Regions from separate parts of the Homo sapiens genome. Here region 2 is linked to region 1. A link means that fine-mapping ties the variant in region 1 to the expression of a gene that starts in the linked region. Tissue or cell type: tibial nerve. Region 1 holds a variant in brackets; the other region holds the start of a gene. All regions are shown on one strand. Distances are from middle to middle.

What was found. PIP is the estimated chance that this variant, and not a neighbour inherited with it, causes the effect.
Region 2: ITIH2 starts here. The variant in region 1 is fine-mapped to the expression of ITIH2 in tibial nerve (GTEx, PIP above 0.99). The same link has a PIP of 0.9 or more in cerebellar hemisphere, cerebellum, cerebral cortex, ileum, left ventricle and lung.

What each region holds. Positions count from the first base shown.
Region 1 is chr10:7,751,327-7,754,044 of GRCh38, reverse strand. KIN (Kin17 DNA and RNA binding protein) reads left to right here. Exons shown (of 13, transcript NM_012311.4): 13 at 1-2,718. Among named protein-coding and RNA genes, the nearest start is that of KIN, 35 kb to the left of the region's middle. The variant A/C (reference allele first, on the strand shown) is at 1,360.
Region 2 is chr10:7,701,891-7,704,390 of GRCh38, reverse strand. It overlaps ITIH2 (inter-alpha-trypsin inhibitor heavy chain 2), which reads right to left and starts at 1,075. Exons shown (of 21, transcript NM_002216.3): 1 at 873-1,075. The coding sequence starts at 956.

The DNA of each region.
Region 1 (2,718 bases):
GTTGATCTTCTACAAGAGTTCAAACAAAAAACAGACCATACCAGGATGATCACTTCAAACATGAGGATGGGTATAAGCTGACGTCAGACACAGGTATGGTGCCAAACCCTGGGATCTCTCTCTTTAACTGAGAGTCAGGGAGGGCTGATTGCTTCTATTCTCAGAAGATGGGAGAACGTATGCTGTTAGCAGAAATGTAAGAGGCAGTAAAGAAATACTAATAGGATGATGGCAGAAGCTTTACAGAAAATGTTCCTCAGGGATGAATTAAGGTTTTTCCAAAGTAACCTGACAGCACATTATGGAAAGCAACTGGGTTTTGGGTGTGGGCAGTCTTTAGATCAAATTCTGGCAGTTCTGTTCATTGGCTTTGTAATATTAGAATGTTAATGTTCTTGAATTGCAATGTTTTTAATGTATAAATTGTCAAAATGTTTTTCAGCAGGGTTGATGGGAGACCTACAGAAAATACATATAAATCATCAGACATGAAGTCCAGCACATAGTAGGTATTGAATAAATGGCAGTGAGTGGTCATGTCCAGAAATGAAGCCAAGAAGTTGAGCCTGGACTACTAAGAATCTGGTCTGAAGAATTTCAAAAAGGAGAATGGTTCTCCCTGATAACAAATAGTGATGAGTAAAACCAGACAAATTACATATGCCTCCCCCAAGTATGTACGTTTGGAATCAACTTGGTGGTTTTCTTCAGAGAAAAAATGTTTCATGTCTGCCTCCCACATTTAATTCTCCAACGTCTTTCTGAAATTATTTCAGAATGAAATGAGGCAGCATACTTGAGGTTAAATTCAATAAAAAATATCTGAAGCATAAAAATACGATTATAGACTTCACAGTAGTTTTTTCCCTCTGAGTCTGTAGAACTTGATAGAGTTTATGCTAAGCAAAATGACTGCAGATAACTAACAACAGGTCTCATATTAGACTTTGATTTTTGAAGTATCATAAGCTATTTTTCTTTATTTCAAACATAGACTTTACTTTTTAGAGCAGTCTCTGTGGGTTTTGACAAATGTATAATGACATGCATCTGCCACTGTAGTATCACACAGAACAGTTTCACTGCCCTAGAAGTTTCCTGTGTTCTGTCTGTTCCCTGTCTCCCCCCAAATCCCTGCTGACCGCTGATCTTTTTACTGTCTCCCTAGTTTTGTCTCCATCGAAGGTCATATAGTTGGAGTCACACAGGGTGTAGCTTTTTCAGATTGGCTTCTTTCACCTGGTAGAACATATGCATGTAAGGTTCCTCCATGTTGTTTTGGTTAGGTTTTTGTGGCTCGATAGCGCACTTCATTTTAGCACTGCATATTCTATTGTCTGAATGCACCACAGTTTATGC[A/C]CTCACCTACTGAAGGATATCTTGGTTGCTTACAAGGTTTGGAAATTATGAGTAAAGCTGCTACAAACATCTGTGCGCAGGTTTTTTGTGGATAGACGTTTTCAACTTATTTACGTAACGACCAAAGAGCACAATTGCTGGATCATATGCCAGGAGTCTTCTGAGAAACTACCAACCTGTCTTCCAGAGTGACTGTACCATTTTGTATTCAAACGAGCAGTGAATGAGAGTTCCTGCTGCTCTGCATCTCCGTCAGCATTTGATGTTGTCAGTGTTCTGGATTTTGGCCATCTTAATAGCTGTACAGTGGGATCTTGTCATTGCTTTAATTTGCATTTCTTTGATGAAGTATGATGTGGAGCATCTTTTCATGGGCTTATTTGCCACCTGTATATCTTCTCTGGTGAGATGTCTTTCAGGTTTTTTGCCCATTATTTAATTGGGTTACTCATTTTCTTATTGTTGAATTTTAAGAGTTGTTTGTATATTTCAGTTGTGTTCTTTATCGAATGTGTCTTTTGCAAGTATTTTCTCTCAGTCAGTGGCCTGTCTTCTCATTTTGTTTTAAGCTATTCTTTTTTAACACCCCAAGATTTTCATCGTTACTTTTTTTTTTTTTTTTTTTTTTTTTTTTTTTTTTTTTTGAGACGGAGTCTCGCTCTGTCGCCCAGGCCGGACTGCGGACTGCAGTGGCGCAATCTCGGCTCACTGCAAGCTCCGCTTCCCGGGTTCACGCCATTCTCCTGCCTCAGCCTCCCGAGTAGCTGGGACTACAGGCGCCCGCCACCGCGCCCGGCTAATTTTTTGTATTTTTAGTACATCGTTACTTTTAAGACCACTGTGCACACATAAAATACTAAAAGCTAAACTTAATATCTGCAGGTAGAAGTTTTAAATTCAAGATTTTAACCAAATAACAGAGTTAATGCTAAAATCTCACTTTTGAAGTTTATGTTGAATATTAGCATTCTAATATTTAATATTTTTCTATTTTTGAAATAGGAAATGGAAAAGATGCAGTAGGTTTTTCAAAAGGGTATCATAGGTGAGCACTTCTTATAGAAGAAGAAAACTAAGAGGTAGTGCTATTTACCTCTTCAGCACTAAGTTTATCTTTATTTTTATTTATTTCTATAAAGAGATGGGAGTCTCACTGTGTTGCTTAGGCTGGTCTTGAACTCCTGGCCTCCAGTGATGCTCCTGCCTTGGCCTCCGAGAGTGCTGGGATTATAGGCATGAGGCACCACACCCAGCCAGTAATCTTTAGCTTCTAGAAACAATCAGATTTCCTTAAGATTTTGCAATTAGGTTTAGAGGAGCTCACTTGCTTTTTCAAATATGGGTTGGATATGTCCAAAA
Region 2 (2,500 bases), 50 kb after region 1:
TGTCTTGGCTTCAATTTGAGATTTCTAACACACTCTGGTGGCTTTTAAGTGTTGGAAAATATGATAGTTTCAAAGCAGACAGAGTGATATTTTCCCTTTGTAAATATGCCGTCATATTCTCTGGCATTTTTATAGGTAATCCACTCTGCAAGTATTATAAGCCTTTGCATTTGCTGGGATGTTCCCATAACATGCTTCGCTTTTCTGGCATAAAAATAGCTCTTGTATGACTTTCAGAAACAGACTTTCAGTCCAAGACTTTCCTTACATTGGAGATGGCTAAGGGACAAAAGTGGAGACCTGTACTCCATGGGAATTATTCTTGTACTTTTCCACCCTGCCTGCTATCTTCCGCTTTAATAGGAATACTTAAAGTGCTCTTATTACAAATATCACTGTTCACTTAGATATGAAAAACAGTGTGCTTTGATAATGACTTTTCTTATACTCTTAGTAAAAGAGTGATAATATTTCTTCATCATCATAACAGCTAGTAATTATTAAGCACTTACTAGTCCAGGCGCTCTGCTAGAAGAGTTTACACTGTGTCATTTAATTCTCAAAGCAAACCATTGGGTTAGGTCTATTCTTACCCCCAATTTTTTAGGTGAGGAGTGAGCAGCTCTGCTCCATAAATGCTACGCTCTGATGCCTGCCCATTGATCTTGACTTAATTTTCATGCAAAACCTGTTAATGCTTTAAAAGGTAAATATACATTCCAGTAATTATAACAGTAAACACTTGCACTCAGATGAATTTTATCTTAAGTTTCCATTACACACAGAATAAGGCCATTGAATAGCGATTCCAATAGATGATTTACTGAGCTCATGAACAAGCCAACAGCAAGGAGTGATCTGTAAGTACTTACTTCAGAAAGTCCATTTATGGGGATTTCGAAGCCTGATACTTCAGAAAGAAAGAAGCAGATGAAAAAGCACGTGAGTCTTTTCATTTTGCTGGACAGTTTTGCCAAGCTCCCCAAAGCAGATGGTCTGGGGAGGATATCACTTCTTCCTACTGAACCAAGTTCAAAGGAACAGCAGAGGAGTACAGTTCGCTTTAAGAAAGAAGAAAAAAGAAGAAAAAACTCTCTAACTTTGTTCAAAATTGGGACAAATATTTGTTCTGGAGCTCAAACTTGAGCTGTGTGGGTGGATCGAACACCCAGAGGTTATTCAAACAGCAAAGTCAGAAGCAGTTGCTTACTGTGAGGACAAGTCAGGGGCAGATGGATGTGCTTGAATGTGCTTGTGTGCTTTTATTTTATTTTTATTTTTTATTTTTTGGCTTTTGCTGATTTCTATTGATCTTAAAATCAGAGAGACCTACAGATAATTGTCATCCTTTCTAAAGGACCAAGTGCAGAACTATTCCAAGAAACAAAATCCTTTGATCTAAATGAAAGCAGGAAAAATTTAGAAAAAGTGGGAGAAGACACAGAAGGGTTTTTCTGAGCAAAGAATTCATTGTGCATGTTTTCCCCTATCTCTTTGATGACTGTCTACCTGTTACCTATAAAGACCCAGGCAAGTGGCTGTGCAGGATACTAGGGCAGATCTTCAGTGAGAATGCTTCGTGAATGTCTTTGATTAAGGTAACAGTGTCTGTCCTGCTGCCCCTATCAGCCGGGCTCAGGTCAGTGGCAAATCAATACTCCCCAGTCTCAGAATTGGAGTGCAGTGGTGAGATCAAAGCTCATTGCAGCCTCAACTTCCCCCGGCTCAAGCAATCTGCCCACCTCAGCCTCCAGAGTAGCTGGACTACAGGTGTGCACTACACTGCCTGGCTATTTTTTGTAGAGATGGGATTTCATCATGTTGCTCATCCTGGTCTTGAACACCTGGGCTCAAGCTATCTGCTTGCCTCAGCCTCCGAAACTGCTGGGATTCCAGATGTGAGCCCCCATGCCTAGCCTCCATCCTGGTCAGATTCTATTTTTCTTGCAACAAACAGGAAATGTAACTTCTTGGATGCAACACTGAAATAGGAAGCTCCAGCTGTGGGCAGAATTACAATACAAGGGAGGTTGTCTTATCCTCAGGACCAAGCACCCCAGGCCAACTTCTGGGATCCTGGAGCTCCTTGCTACATTTAAAGCCCAATTCACAGGGCATGCAACAGAGAGTTTTCTGCATTTTCCTCCCTAGTTTCCCCTCAGTCTTCGAAATTGCACAGCCGTGTGTCTGCTGGAGAAACATAACTTCTGAAATAATGGAAGGGAGAAAACAGATTCTCCCCTCCCTTGCCTAGGTTGGACTAGTTGAGCGCCCACCTTGGCCAGTGAGTGCCTCAGTGGACCCCTCATGGAAAAATCCTGCCACAGCTTTGCATTCTTGACTGAGATACTGTTTCTGGAGAATTAAGACCCAATGGCAGCTGGGCGCGGTGGCTCACACTTGTAATCCCAGCACTTTGGGAGACTGAGGCGGGTGGATGACCTGAGGTCAGGAGTTTGAGACCAGCCTGGCCAACATAGTGCAACCCCGTCTCTACTAA